Linked DNA regions of Homo sapiens: region 1 is linked to region 2. Evidence: fine-mapped expression QTL. Tissue or cell type: whole blood. Region 2 holds a variant in brackets; the other region holds the start of a gene. All regions are shown on one strand. Distances are from middle to middle.

Region 1 (8,104 bases), 180 kb before region 2:
CTTGCAGACAGCAGATAATGAAACTTCTCAGCCTCCATAACCATACCAGCCAATTCCTCATAATTAATTTCATTCTGTATATATTTCTATATCCTATTGGTTGTGTTTCTCTGGAGAACCCTGACAAATGCATTTAGGGAGAATTGACATCTTATACTACTGAGTTTTTCAATCTTGAATTGGTATTTCTCTCCACTTATTTAAGTCTTCTTTAATTGTTCTAATAAGACTTTGTGGTTTCCATTGTGAAGAAACAATTTATTCACCACCACTGTGATGGGGCAGAGGCCTTCCAGGGGTCAGAATACTAAGGCAGGAGCTTGATGGATGAGAAGTGCAATGAGGAAATTGCAAAAATATGGGCAGAAGAAATGATTAAAGGGTCCACTAGGTAAAGCAACAATTTCAAGAATTTTAAAGCAGAATAGCTGGGTGTATAAAGTTTCATCAATGGCAGGCAGCAAACAGCTGTGTGCCCTGCCAGCAACAGGGAAGCCAGGAACTCTGGAGCGTATTTATATGATGCAGCTTACCATGGACTGATGATTCAGCAGCAATTTTTCATGAGGAGGAAACTGTGATTGTTAACCGAGGTATGACAGTTGTCCTCTTTAAAAGCGAAGAACAGGCTGGGCTGAACTCAGGCCAAGTTTGCCTTCTGGGCTTTCCTTCCTTCTATCTTCCATTTCTGTAGCCCCTCCAGCCTGCTAGCATTTCCTCTTCAGCACCATCATATTTCTTCGGAAACTCCCCTTTGCCACCTGCATCTAGACCTGCTCCACAGCCCCATAAACGATCCCCAAATTATCTCCCTCCCTAGATCCTTCATCCATTCATATTTAGGATATTCAGGTGTTCAGAGAAGGAAGTGGTTAGGGGATGCAGTTAATACACATCCATGTATTAAATGACAGATAGCTAGGTGGGCATTTCTCAAATGAGGGTCCAAAGACATAATCGTAGAGATTTGAGAGGTCCGTGGGCATTTAGATAATAATAGCTAGTATTTATTGCATGCTTGTCATGTATCAGGTGCTGTTTGAAATGCTTTACATGTATTATTTGGTTTCACTATAACATTACAAAGCAGATGCCCTTATCTATATTTAACAGGTGAGCAAACTGAACATGTTCTTATTCCCATTAAACAGATGGGCAACCACGGAAAGGTTGATCAGCTCAAGGTTACACAGCTAAGAAATGACAGTATAAGGACTCAAATCCAGGCAGTCTGAGTCTAGAGCTAGTGCTCTCAACCCCAATGCTGTCATCTGGGGCTCAATTGAGCCTGGATGGTCCAAGATGCTGTCATGCATGTTTGGCAGTTAGCTGGGGCTGTTGGCTACGGCCTCCTCCTCCATTTGGTCTTTCCAGCAGGATACATCAGACTTCTTTATGCAGCAGCTGGATTCCAAAAGGTAAATGTCTTCGAGGCAATTTTTCCATGTGGAAAATTACCTTGATGCAATGGCAGCCTCCATGTATACACCTACAGGTCACGAAATAGATAGGCTTATAGGCCAAATTAAGAAGCTTAAATCACATTATCTGGTGGTTCTAAAACGTATCCTCAAAGGTTTTGGCATTACTCCTATTAAGATGTGGGGTTTATATCCCTTTCCCTTGAATAGGGGCTGGCCCTAGGGGTTGGCTTATAGCCAGTAGAATACAGTGGAAGTGATACTGTGTGACTTCCAAGGATAGGTCAGAAAACGCCACAAGCCTGCTTCTTTTTAGACATTCACTCTGGGGAAAGCCAGCTGTCTGGTGAGAAGATCACCATGCTGGAGTGGCTGTGTGAAAGTGCTCTGGTTCTCAGCCCCATTTGAGCTACCAGTCAGCCATGTCAGTGAGCCATCTTAGCTATTCAGCCCAGCTGAACTTTCAAATGACAGCAGTTGTGTTGAAATCTGATTGATACTACATAAACGACTCCAATAAAATAACTGTCCAAGTAAGTTCTTCCCCAATTTCTGAGCCTCAAAATTAAGAGCAAAATAAATTGGCTAATTAAACTACTAAGTTTTGGCATAATGTGTCTACCCAAAGAGCAGCAATAATAACCAGAAGAGTTTACCAACCAACATAAAACAGAGTGAGAAGCAAGGGGAAAGAGATAGGGTAGATTAATAAGCTTAGGATAGGCTGAAGGACCATAGCACCTAAATTCTGTTTTATGCAATGTTCTCATGTCTTATCCCTCTCCACCATCCAGTCTTCTCAGCACATAGTGTGGCTACAAGGACCAGACTGGAGAGTAAGTAAGGTGACTCAACAGACTGAAGGGGCCTGGGCTCAACATATGTCTGTTCTGTTACAGAGCTGAGGGGCAAGTGTGTCTGGTTATAATGGTAGCTGGCATTAGTTGGCTTTGTAGCTGGGGGTTTATCTGCTTTTCTTGGGAAGAGATTACATGAGGCCATAATAGCGTTACAATGGGTGTTACCAGTAGGTATGCAATTTAGGGATGACATGGCTGTAAATCTGAAGATAGTATGATCTGTACCTTATTAATACTTAAAAGTCCACTTTGTCTTTCTGCCTCTATCTAAAGCAGCATTTTCATTTGTTCCATCCTTTTTATCTATGTTCAACCCATATCCATTCATTCTATGTGTAACCTTTCTCATAAGTGACTTGCTTCTACATTTTAGTTTCTCTTGTTTTATAATAGAATTAAATATTCTATAGTAATATAGCAAAAGCATTACAGCAAACCCCAATGAGCAAACATGTATCATATCACGTTTATGATGTCCTCCTATTTATTGACCAAAACAAGTCAAATAGCCAAGCCCACAGTCAATGTAGAGGTGGACCACACAACGGAGCGGATAATAGAAGGTGTAGTTCATTGGGGATCACTACTATAACAATCTAATACTAACACATAGTTAGGAGACGGTTGATCCAGGGATCGAACTTTCCACAGTCTGTCTCTGGAGGCTACACACTAAACTACTATTCTGGAGGTGGTTGGGAATGGGTTCTTACTGAAGAACTTTTTTCAAACCTCACTTCCCAGGTCTGGGGCCTGTGATCCACCCCAGTGAATCAGAATATCTTGGGGGTAGGAAATTGTGGGGGGGATGGGGTGGTACTCCCATGAGCCTGAGACTGAAATAGCTCTGCAGAGGATTCCAGTGCACACTAGGGAATGAAGGGGGTTTCAAAGACAAGGAAGATATACTTTATGCACTCAAAAAGCTTTCATTTCCACAGAGAGCATTCTTAATTGTTGTTATTACATCACAGAGGCATCACCTTGGAATTTAAAAAAGAAGCGATTCCTTTCAATGTTTAAGAGACATCAGTGTTTCTCAAGCTTTCGTGTGTGTTATTACTGGAGGGCTTGTTAAAACCCACATGACTGGGTCCAATGTCTACGTTCTGATTCAGGAGGTGTGAAGTGGGGTCCACTATTTCTCACGTCTAAAAAGCTCTGGGACACACTTTGAGAACCAGAGTTAGAGAAGTAGGAGGCTTTAGTGGTAACAATCCTCCATTATTCAGTTTAATATTCTACTTACATGTAGCACATTTACTACCTACAAGTTTCCGGGCTGAGTGCAGCACTGTTTATGATAAGGATGGGATTTAGATCTTGATTACGCTCCAGCAGATTTATTAAGTGGATTTATTCTCTAAGGGTGCCTAAGCGTCATTAGACAGGTTCAGATAAAGCAGAGATCTCCTCCCTTAGAAGAGATTAGGGACAGCTTAATGAAGTAGGAGACCTTTCACCTGGGCCTTGAAAGATGCCTAGGACCTGGATCAGGGGAAATCGTGGACAATCAAATTATTCTTCCCGCTTTAGCACAGAGACAAAAAAATCACAAGCAACCACTAGGAAAGGTCTATGACATTCTTGCCTCTGCCTCTAGCATTAACAATTTGCATGCCAGCTGCTGGAATCTGAACGGGGAGGACTGTTCTCGTGTCAAGGGCTCAGTCTCAGACCCTCCTTGGGCAGGGGTGGAACTGGCTTCGCTTTCTCTTTGGGGCGCCCAGAGCGACTGCATTAGAGCCGGCCTGCTCGGCCGAAGCGGCGGTGGGCGCTGACTTGGCGAAGGGCGCAGCTGGGGCGCTTCGTTCCGGAGCAGAGCGCCGTGATCCCGTCGGGGCTGGGGTGGCAGCGCAGCTCTCCGCCTGTCCAGAGCGGGGCCGCACGCCGGGGCACCTTTCAGAACAAGCTCCAGATGTGGCCCCAGGTTGGGGGCCGGGTGGCAGCTGTACTACCCTGGCGGGCGAGGGGTCCAGAGCTCGTTTTCCCTATTCCGATCTGTAGGTTTAACGCCAGCACAGGGTGGCGCACCCTACCTCCTTCCACCTTCACGCACCAGCGCGGGAGGGGACGCGTGTGCACGCTCCTCCCCTAGGAGGGAGGGCGGCCCGAGAGCCTGCAGACTGCGCCTGCGCAGCCTCGCTCACACACCTCCCCGCCCCCCCGCACCTCCTTCCCCTTTCGCCCCGCCCCGTTCCCACTTCTGCTGCCGCTAGGGGTAGCGGCGGCGGCGGCGGCTGCGGCTCGGGAGCGCGGCTGCTTTGAGGGCTCGGGAACCTTACAGAGTGGGGACGTGGGGAGGCTAGAGGGTGAGAAAGCTGGCGGGAGAGTAGGGCGGCGCTGGAGGAGGGCGGTGCGTGGCTGACTCATCCTCTGGAAGATCAGACTGACAGAGACACACACTAGCCCGCCCCGCCCGCCCGCGCCGCTCCTCCTCAGCCGGGAGGCGCCCGCCCGCACCGACCGCCCGCCCTCTCCGGGCGCTGTCCGGGCCCGGCCGTCTCAGAGAAAGTTTTTCCCATCGGAGGGGCGGGAGCCGCCGCGGGCCTTTTGGAAAGGAAGTGGGGACGGAACAGGAGGCGAGAGCCGCGCGGGCCCGCGGAGTGCATGGTGCCCGGCGCCTCGGCTGCCTGGCAGGAGGACCTCGGGGCGGGGTCGAGCTGAGCCCAGCTCCTTCTCGCCTCAGCCGCGCCAGAAACCGCCTTGCCGGACGGCCGCGGGGGTCCCAGCTCCTCAGCTCGCCATGTCCCGGCTGCTGCCGCTGCTGAGGAGCCGGACCGCGCGCAGCCTGAGGCCGGGCCCGGCCGCCGCCGCCGCGCCCCGCCCGCCGTCCTGGTGCTGCTGCGGGCGGGGGCTGCTGGCGCTCGCGCCCCCCGGCGGCTTGCCGGGCGGCCCCAGGCGGCTGGGCACGCACCCCAAGAAGGAGCCCATGGAGGCGCTGAACACGGCGCAGGGCGCGCGCGACTTCATCTACAGCCTGCACTCCACGGAGAGGAGCTGCCTGCTCAAAGAGCTGCACCGCTTCGAGTCTATTGCCATTGCCCAAGGTAAGGGGGGCAGGTGGGGGGCGAGCCCGGGGGCCCCGACGCCCTCCTCTTCTCGCCAGCCCACCGGGAGCCCGCTGCGGCCCTGGATCTTGGACCCCCGCCGCCGCCCCCCTTCCGCCCCCCTCGCCTGTCTGGCCCCACGCCTGGGACGGCTGGGGGCGGGGAGACTTTCCGCCGCCCGAGTTTCCCCCAGGCAGGTAGGACGGGCGCGGGTCGTGCCAGGCAGCCGAGGCCAGCGCTAGCTACTTCCTCCCCAGCCTCCGAATCCGGAGCTTCGGCCTAAAATGCCAGTTAACGCTGTTGGGATTGAGTTTTGATTTGCCCCGTGCCTCCCCTCCCCAGCCCTCCTGTCCCTTAGCCCTTGCTGCTTTCTTGCGAGCGTGCACCCGTGCAGGTGGCATGCTGTGCCTGCTCCGAGAAAGTGCTGCAAACCCGCCTGGCAGGAAGAAACTTTTTGAACGGTTATCAAATGAAGACGTATGGGTGGGTAGCCAAAAGAAGGGGTGTAGCTTCGAAAGTCAGGGATGCTCATAGCTGCTTGTTTCCACACATGTCTGATTGCGTTAATTTCAGCAGCCAAAGGAAACATTTTCTCCAGAAATGGAAAGACAGATTCAAGTTAAACTCCAGTTTTGGTTTTTCCCAGAGGTTGAAAGAATGAAATAAATAAGGAGGTATATTTTTTGGAAATCTGTGGCTCTGTAGTAAAAGTCAGACTGATGCTCAAAAGTAATTGGGAATGATGAAAGCAAAACGATTTTTAAACTAGCATGTTAAAATAGGATATTTCTAAAAGGAGTCCAGAATGGGGTAGGGCAGAATTTGAGTCTAGGTGAAAAAGCTAAAAGTTCAGAAAATAAAAAGGATGAAAGGAGCAAACGACTAAAATGGATGTCTTAAAATATTTCTGCCACTTAAATACAGTTATGTAAACAAAACACATTGCTTCAGTTTGTATTACATTCTGATGTGTTTGAAAGTTTTAAAAAAGTTTACTCTCCTCTCTAAACTTGGTAGGTACATAAACATCTCATAGATTCCAAAGTGTAGAGCACATTGATTCGGATCATGCCATTTGATTTGCCAGACTTGAAAGTATATCTTTAGCTGATGTGCAGGAATGGAGGAAAGAATTATCTACCTCATGTAAGCAGGACGTTATCTGTACTACTTCAGAAACTTGTTTTAGTTGTGGCTTTTAATCAGATGTTTTCCCCCTCAGTTCAGGAAATTGTGGACCAATTTATAGTGGATGATTGATTCCAGACATTGTTTACCCACAGTGCTTTTACAGGAAAATGTAACGTCCGATCAATTCCGTTATTCAATGTGTAATCATGATGTTATATGCAATCATAATGAAACACTAGCACATTTGTAATCTATGTGTGCACTCAGTATGCAGTTTAAAAATAGTCAATTCTGAAAATATGCTCCTTGGAAAAATAATATAGTCAGTCATGTACTAGAACATTAACTTTTGAATCTTTCTGCACTGACAAGACTATTTGAACACACATTTTACCTTTTCCAAGTAATTTCTTGGAAATTCTGCATTGTCAACAAGTTACAAGATTGGAGGGCCCTATGAATATAGTTTTGTGGCAGTTCTTGAAAAACATGTCCTGCAAGGTGACTGAATAATTTTTTTCTCATACATTATTATTTTTTACATGCCAGCAGTATTGCAGTAGCAATGCTACATTTCCTAATAAAGATAATATTTTTAAATTTAACGTGGTTTTAAATATTCTGAAAAGGACCTAAGCACTTTAGTCAATGGAGATCATTAGCATCAATTAAACTTAGTTATGTTACTAATATGAGAGAGAAATTAGTAATTTAAATTGTCTTCTTTGCTCAGGAGAAACAGTCAAGGATATTTGAAACAATGGTTAGTCAGATGCTTATCTCTCCTCTTTATATGCTAAAGAACATCAAAGTTTAAATCAGCTATTTTTGCTGATGTCGATGACAAAATGATTGTCCTATGAATCAAATGACACAGATGCTGCTGCTTTGTTAGTGTATGTAGTCTTGGTGTTCACTTACTGTTTTCAGTATCAATACATATAGTTATGGAGATAACTAGAATCATCACTTAGGAAATTACCTTATTCATTAATCATTAAGGTAAAAGGGATTTTATTATGTTGGGAATGCGTACAGCTCATTCCATTGCTGAAATCAACAATTTTTTTCCAGCCAGATAAATGAAAAACTCCCATGTTTTCTTTTATTGTTGCTTTTTGAATAATGTTTTGAAGTACTCAACCGATGTATTGTGTGTGTGTACTAAGTGTACTTTCTAACAAAATTAATTCTATTTAAAGGGCTATTTCTTGCCATAGGCAATCTTGTGTGTCTTTGGAAAGGGTGCTTGTATAAACTAATGAAGTGTTTTGGATTTGGTATGGAAATGTTACTGAAAAAATATCATCCATGCTTTGATATGGCAGTGGAATCTGCTGTTGAAATTTGGCACATTTGCCCTTATCTTTCTTATATGTTTATCAGTAGGCATGTGATATAATCTGTGATGAGATAAAGCTTTGGAATCAGTTCGTAATAGATAAGGCAGACCTTGTGGGATATCTTATCATAGTTAAATAGAATATTGTGATTTTTAAAATTACAAACCAATTTCTTTCCCAATTTAAAAAAAAGTTGAGTTTGCGCCTTCAATTTACCTGCTCAGCCTGATCTCTCTTCTTCCAGAAACAGACCATATTCTGCTGATAGAGCATTATTCATGTTTTTACAAGTAGTACTG
Region 2 (8,104 bases):
CTGGCTCATGGCAGCTTCTACATAAATGGTGGCTATTAATAGCTCTAATTACGAGTTTCTAGTGGCTGAGCATTGAGGAGATAAGAAGGGGCTTAGTTTTCCTTGCTCTTCAGTCCCTCCCATTCCTTTCCCAAATACGAGATTTATATCTCCTTTTGCACCCACTAATATGCCCCAGCCACAATGGCCTGTTATCACGTCCTAGGGATGACACAGTCCTGAGGCCAGATCCTTTTGTCACCTGCTGCTGGGGACTAGGATCAGCTCGCTGATGCAGATTGTCCTGGGAGGTTTCCATAACAAAGTTGGGCCGGGGAGCAGGAATTCCCTCTACTCCTGAGGGGTGGCTGGTTCAGCTGGAGACGTCCTTGTTCTCAAACTTCAGCAGGCTTCAGAATCGCCTGGAAGGCTGGTTAGGCCACCGATGGCTGGGCCCCACCCCAGTATTTCTGATTCAAGAGGTCTGGGGTGGGGCATTTCTAACAAGCTCCAGAGCTTCTGCTCTTCTCACTAAGCTATGTTGACTCTTAAAAGAATGGAAATATATTTAATTAACATTACTGAAGTGGTGTCGTGGCAAAAATCTGTCACTCCTGCTGGTCCAGGGACCACACTTTGAGAACCACTGAGCTAGAGAAACGGGAAGGGCAGAACTGGATGGATGTGGCCCCTTCCTGTGAATTTCTCTTTCTTGGAGAGAGTGTTTGTTTGTTTTTTCTCTGAGTCATCTAATGAATCTTCATGATTTCTGTTACTAAATGTCACTGTTGAGTAGCCTGATTTGAAATGGGGTATGAGGCAGTCCTGGAAACACAGCCCCATCTGAAGTCGGGGTGGGGTTAGGGGTCCCAGGCCTCAGTTAGGGAGTGGGCTCCTTGTCCACACAGGCTTCAGGGCTGATGCTGTCTTCTTGCCTCAGCTGGCATGCGTTGGCCTCCCAGGGCCCGGCAGGGCTTTCTTCACAGCTGGGCTGACTCATCTACCAGGGCAAGCCAGGGCCACAGGCACTTGCTGACAATCTGGGGTAATTTGACACTAGACTCAAACAGACACCTTGAAGAATGGACTGCCTTTTTTTGGCAGGATGCAGTGACCTGTGACTGCTACGTGAAGGCCTGGGCACTGCTGAGGTCTGGACAGAGGTAGCCTGATGATCTGGCCAGGTGCTCAGCTCTCTGCAGTTGGCTCACTTCCTGCTGTCCTCTGTGCTTGGCATTTGACAGCAACTTGTCAACTCAGCATCAGATTTCAATGCTGTCCTGATTTTCCATTCTTCTGTTACCTCCTGTCTTGGGCTCACCACAGACTCAGCAACTTGACTTAACTTGGTGTTTCTGGATGTCTTCTGTAGAAATAGCTCTGACTCACTGGCCCTCCATCACCCCCTCATCCTGTAAGCCAATCAGCATGGGAAGACAGTGGGGTTTTTCCATGTACCTCTTTGGCTGCCTTATTGTTGATATCAAGCCACTTCAGCAATAGAGATTCATTTCATAAGAGAACTATGTGATGTTCCAGTAATGTCAGAGCAAGGAAAGCTTTCCATTCATGTGGATCAGAGTTAAGGAAGAAGACGAAATGGAATCGTGGCCTCCTGTCATTTGTGGCAGGCCCCTACACCCCTGCCCCTGAAGTTCTGAGCACAGCCCATGATCTGTCAGGAGAACAGCAGGGATCTGCTTCTGGCAGGATTCTGCTCTGTGGAATCACAGATAAGCGGTTCCTATTTTTCTTCCAACACTGCAGAGAAATGACAAAATCCAGGGCCAGAATTTTCATGAATTAAATAGAGTTGGAATGGATCTGAGAGCTCGTTGGGCCAAGGGGTGGCAAATGCATTTTATTTGTGCCAATAGCAATTGTTTGGGAGGGGCTGGATAAAGCTCTACATTAGAAGCCTACTTTGAGCTCAGGCAGAAATGGTACCCTGGTCTTACAGTCACATCTGTCTTGGGCATAGGATGAGAAAGTGGTCACATATTGCCATCACTGACCCAGCTCTGTTCTCTCCATTTATGGAACAGGAAGCTAGGTCCCAGTGAATGAAAGGTCTTTCCCAGTTCCTACAACTTGTTAGTGGTAAATTTAGAAATAGAATCTAGGTTTTCTGGCCTTATTTCAGTAACATTAATTCAATACATTTTCTTTCTTTCTTTCTTTCTTTTTTTTTTTTCTTGAGATGGAGTCTCACTCCCGTTGCACAGGCTGGAGTGTGGTGGTGCAATCTCAGCTCACTGCAACCTCCACCTCCCGGGTTCAAACGATTCTCAGCTTCCCGAGTAGGTGGGATTACAGGCATGCGCTACCATGCCTGGCTAATTTTTATATTTTTAGTAGAGACGGGATTTCGCCATGTTGTCCATGCTGGTATAGAACTCCTGACCTCAGGTGATCTACCCGCCTCGGCCTCCCAAAGTGCTAGGATTACAAGCGTGAGACACTGTGCCTGGCCAACATTTTCATTCTCATTGGAATAGATGCTTTGAAAACAATTGAGTCTGAGTTCAAATCCTTAATCCATCATTTACCAGCTGTGTGACCTTGAGCATGTCACTTAATGTCTCTGTGCTTCTGTTTCCTCATTTATTAGATGGAATAAACACACCCATTTTACTATTGGGAGGATCGAATGTGATCATGGTATGTGTAGCTTGGGGCCTCACCTAAATATTCAATGTATTTTTTTTTTCCAACAGCAAATGACATGCATTATTAAGATGACAGTCTTGGGGACAGTTTGCACACCACAGTGATGGTATAATTGTGTAATTGTAGATCTAGCTTCCTCTCCTGTGAACTAACAGTTTGGGACCAGATTACCTTGAATTTTCCTCTAGCTCTAAAATTTCTATGATTGTAAATAAATGACTTTAATAGATTTTTCTTTAGCTGTTTCTATGAGCTGGTACTTGGTAAAGGAGCCCTGGAGGGTTTTCTGGAGTCAAACAAGGGTCTTTCCAGGTGCAAAGGGCATATTCAGGATTCTAATCTCTTCTATGCTGTGCAACTGATGGTCTGAGACCTCTGCATTGCGGTAAAACGAATTTTCTTCTCAGCCTTTCAAGGGCAGGAAGTGGTCTGAGTTATCAATGTCCCAGCACCCTGCATGAGCCTAGGATATGGAAGGTGGCTGACTTCACCTCTAGGGCTTGAGAAAAGCAGTCCAAGGCTCATCCATGGCCAGGGACTTGGAATTTACAAGGCCTAGGACTGAATGAGCTTGTGACTCTGGGCCCCTGGCCCAGTCACTTCCTCTTGCAGCCTGTTGATCATTCCATGCATTAAATCCGGAAGCTGCTAGGTTACGCTCTGTCCTGG[C/G]GGGGTGTGGCTAAATAGGCAGTGAGGAAATGCTGCAGCCTCTTTCACAGGGGACTGGATGGGGCCGTAACACATCGAACAGCTGTACCTCCTCTGAAAAGCCATTTCAGGTGAACCAAAGCATTCTGCCCCTACGAGGAAGAAAGGGAGGCAGTGAGGAGAGAATCAGGCCCAAAGAGCTGGGCCCAAGTGACATTTATAAATAGGAACATGGAAACTCACGGAAGAAGCCAAGCAAGGTAAAGGAGAGTGGGCAAGTCTCAGTGAGACCATTTAAGACATAAACAGCTAAGGAGAGTCTTTGAGGGCCATTATGTAACTGTTTTCCCGAACCCAGATCATAGGAGCAATTTGTAGCTGGAAAGAGAAGCATCGGAAGCTTTGGTGCTTACCTTTGTTCATTCATTTATTCAGGCACTATTCACAGCCTCGTGTGCCCCAGACTCTGCTAGCATAGGAGAAAGGACCATAACAAAGGCATTGTCTCTGTTTCCAAGATTCCAGAAATGTAACCAGGGAGGAAGGCATATAAATAGCTTGCAGAAGCAACTGTAATTATCACAGTGCCATGGCATCCACTGTTGTGTTAAATCGGGTTTCTCTTGGTGGATGTTCATTGTGGTGTCTGCCTGGAACTTGTCCGCTTCTCGGTGGAAATGCAGCCACCTTCTTTTAGGAGTATTGTTCCTCATCCCGTCCCCCTCTGAGTAAGCGCTGTCTGTCTGCACTCCTCTGACCCTAGTGATAGTTAGGAGAATGGCTAATGACCACAGTCAGGGCAATCAGAGTTCTTTCCTGGGATTCCTGTAAATGGACCTTGGGAAAGAAGAGCTTTTATTTTTTTCTGTTTTTCTTGGAAAGTGAAGCTATAAGGGAAGGCCAAGTGCTGTAGAGACCAGTCTCCTGCCTCAGAAAGATCAGCAGTTGAGGCTGGGTGCGGTGGCTCATGCCTGTAATCCTAACACTTTGGGAGGCCAAGGCGGGTGAGTCACCTGAGGTCAGGAGTTCAAGGCCAGCCTGCTCAAGATGGTGAAACCCCGTCTCTACTAAAAATACAAAAATTAGCCAGGCATGGTGGTGCACACCTGCAATCCCAGCTACTCCGGAGGCTGAGGCAGGAGAATTGCTTGAACCTGGGAGGCAGAATTTGCAGTGAGCCAAGACTGTGCCACTGCACTCCAGCCTGGGTGACAGAGACTCTGTCTTTAAAAAAAAAAAAAGTGGACAGTTAAGAAAATAAAAGGGATAGCCAGAGAAGCAGAGATAAGACACACACACACACACACTCACACACACATACACACACACTCACACACATACACACACTCACACACATACACACACTCACACAACATACACACACTCTCACACACATACATGCATATGCACACACGCACATACACACACTCACACACATACACACACTCACACACATGCACACACAAACACTCACACATACACACACTCATACACACACACACACACACAATGCAAGAGGGAGAAAATGAGAGGGAGAGAAAAGCAGATAGTTGAGGGCCTTTGAGTCCCTGGTCTTACTCTCTGCCGTACTTCTGCAGTTTACAAACACCAGCTACTCACTTCCCTTTTTGTGTTTTTGCTCAAATTCAGTGTCTGTTGCTTACCATTAAGCGTCCCATCTAATAACAATATAGCCCCTACCAAGAAGAGAGGGAAGGGAACTGGCATTCCTACCTACTAAGGACCAAGCATTTTTTAGGCACTTTGCAAACTGCCTGACTTAATTCTCTAAACAACAAGTGAGGTAGGGCTCAGCAGCCCCTTTTGATATTTCAAACAGTAAGAGAAGTTAAACAGCTTGCTCAAAGCACAGCAGTAGGAGTGAAGCAGAAGCAGGAAGTGGTATCATGCCCTGGGGTTATAGAGGTCAATCGAGAGATGCTGTCTAGGCCTTCAGGTAGTTCACAGGATTAAGCACATAGTCACAAAGAAAAATGTATTAGGTTGGTGCAGAAGTAACTGCGGCTTTTGCAACCACTTTTTTTTTTTTTTTTTTTGGAGCTGCAGTTTCATTATTGTTGACCAGGCTGGCATGGTCTCAGCTCATTGCAGCCTCCACCTTCTGGGTTCAAGCAATTCTCCTGCCTCAGCCTCCCAAGTAGCTGGGATTACAGGCACCCGCCACCATTCCTGGCTAATTTTTTTGTATTTTTAGTAGAGATGGGGTTTCACCATGTTAGTCAGGCTGGTCTCAAATTCCTAACCTCAGGTGATCTGCCCGCCTTGGCCTCCCAAAGTGCTGGGATTACAGGCATGAGCCACCGCACCCGGCCTCACAACCACTTTTAATGGCAAAAACCACAATGACTTTTGCACCAGCCTAAACTCTGGCAATCAGTTTTGAAAATAAAGAGGAAGGAGGTAGAGGAAAATCCCGACTTAAACCGAAGACTAAAGGATGGGAAGGAGCTGTGGGCAGGAGGGAGGAGGGGCGTGGATAGCCAGTGGACAGAACAGAGGCTGGGAGGCAGGAGAGGCCAAGGCATTTTTGGCAGGGAGCGGGGACACAGTCGGGGGAGGCTGTTGCAGTGATGCAATGACGGCACTGAAGTAGAGGACACGGATGTCAGGAGCAATGGAGGGATTTGAGGGAAGTGGCGGGGGGACTTGGCAGGACTCAGTCACAGCTTGGACATGGTACAGAAAAGGAAGCAAGGCTGGCTTCCTGGTTCAGAGAAGTAAAGAAAGATTTCCATGTCTGGGCTGACAGAGTGGGACAAAAAAGTGGACGCTTTCCAGGGGTACTGAGTCTGTTTGGGATGCGGAACGGTGAGACGGAAGAAGAGAAAGAAATGTACTTGTCATTTTAATTACCATTGGGGGTTCGGCTCACTTGGTGCAGTGGGTAAGAAAGCCAAAATTAAATGCAGTGAAATTTGTCCTGAAAATGGAATTCCTCAGCAGGTTAGAGAACCCTGTGCTAATAGCAATGGCTTTGACAATAGCTCCCATGAGGCCTGTCTTAGAGCACAATGCTTTGCACACTTCTGAGGCACTCAGTGTCTTTTAATTTTTAAGGAGGAAGGAAGAAAAGCAGAAAAAGAGAGACAAATACTGTATTCTAATTCTCAAAACTATACTTCAGTCAGCCAGCCAGGATCCTACACTGAGAACCCAAGTTTGTAGCAGAGCAAAGCCACTATATCTGCCTTCTCAGGACCTTCTTCCTCTTTTGGAGACAGGGTCTACTGCCAAGGCTAAAGTGTAGTGGTGCTAGCATAGCTCACTGCAGCCTCAACCTCCTGGGCTCATGTGATCCTCCTGCCTCAGCCTCCTGAGTATCTAGGACTATAGGCGCATGCCATCAAGCCTCGCTAATTTTAAAATATTTTTTATAGAGAAAGGGTCTTATTATGTTGTCCAGGCTGGCCTTGAACTCCTAGGCTCAAGTGACCGCCCCCTGCCCGCCTTGACCTCTTAAAGTATTAAGATTACAGGCGTGAGCCACCAAGCTTGGCCAAGGACCTTCTTAAAAGCTACTTTGATAATTGCAGCAATTAGCTTTGACATTGTTTTACTTCTTCAAGTAATAACAGAAAATACTTTATTCAACTGTTCAACCTTGGTAATGGTGTGAATTGAGTGTGGTACAGCCACACTGGTGTGTCCTTCACAACACTGGGGGACACTGTTCACAGACACAACAATGTGTTTGTGTCCTGGGAGTGGCGTGTGCTTGACCAGCAGGATTTGACAGTGGTCTTGCATGAGAGGACCTTAGCTCAACTTCAAACTTGGTTTCTTCATGGTTGTGTGACTCTCTGAATGAGTCCCTTCATCTCTCTGGACCTTAGTTCTATTGGCTGAAAATGGGGAAGCAAAATTGGACCAGATCAATGTTTCCAAAAGCATGTTTGCTAGAACGATCAATTCTATAGGCTATTTTTAGGTGTTATTTGATAAAACAGGTTCCAAGGTCAAAAAGCACTGGATTAAAATAAGTTAATATAGTGTGGCCTTTTTGTAAAGAAACTGTAAGATACAGATCTACAGAAACTATAAGATATGGATAAGTGATAGAAAACACTTAATGTGGAATTAAAATTGCAGAGTTTGACATTTTTGACCAGGAATTTTTCTTTTTTAAACTGGTCCTGCTCTAGCTGGAAGGCTGCATGTCATTTTATGACTGGAGTAGCTATATATATATGTATATATATATATATAACTTTTTCAACTACAAAAGACTGTAAATTGATTATAGTGAAATTGGAAAATGCAGATCAGTGAAAAGAAAATTTAAAACCACTTAGGGAAAACAAATATTTATAAAATGCTTCATTTCAAATGTAAAAACTAAAGTTACCCACTACCCTATAGAAATCCACAGTGATAACATTTTGTGTATTTCCTTCCAGACATTTTTTTCCCTCTACATGTGTCAGCACTTCCCAGATGTGATGATGGTATTTGAAAGAGCATGATCTGGAAATCCTGAGCCGTGCTGCCACAAGAAAATGGATGCACAGAGGACAAGGCCAGGCAGCGCAGGTCTTCATTACACTGAGACTTTGCCTGAGTCCCATGGTGCCCCAGTGCCCTGGCCTGGGCACATCAGCACTGCCTTCTGTCCAGGCCCCATGAGTCTCAGATGGTGGACCCTGGTGACGGAAGGCTGGGTAGATGCCATGGACCTTTCCATAGGTCATAGCCACAGCTGAGCACTTGGTGTCTTACTACTCAGTGGAGAGGAGAAGTGTGCTGAAGGGTGGTAAGAGAGTGTGTCCAGGGGCCCAGACCAGAGTGG

Evidence for each region. PIP is the estimated chance that this variant, and not a neighbour inherited with it, causes the effect.
Region 1: TMEM65 starts here. The variant in region 2 is fine-mapped to the expression of TMEM65 in whole blood (TOPMed, PIP above 0.99).

The regions. Positions count from the first base shown.
Region 1 is chr8:124,369,081-124,377,184 of GRCh38, reverse strand. It overlaps TMEM65 (transmembrane protein 65), which reads left to right and starts at 4,484. Exons shown (of 7, transcript NM_194291.3): 1 at 4,484-5,331. The coding sequence starts at 5,028. RefSeq lists enhancers at 3,922-4,111, 4,323-4,617 and silencers at 4,342-4,571, 4,692-4,961, 5,092-5,221, 5,272-5,401, 5,412-5,461.
Region 2 is chr8:124,193,156-124,201,259 of GRCh38, reverse strand. LOC124902015 (a long non-coding RNA gene) reads right to left here. Exons shown (of 2, transcript XR_007061086.1): 2 at 6,870-7,160. It overlaps LOC101927588 (a long non-coding RNA gene), which reads left to right. Exons shown (of 3, transcript NR_125420.1): 3 at 7,716-8,104. Among named protein-coding and RNA genes, the nearest start is that of FER1L6-AS2, 26 kb to the right of the region's middle. RefSeq lists a silencer at 4,793-4,842 and enhancers at 5,033-5,082, 5,123-5,362, 5,393-5,452. The variant C/G (reference allele first, on the strand shown) is at 3,319.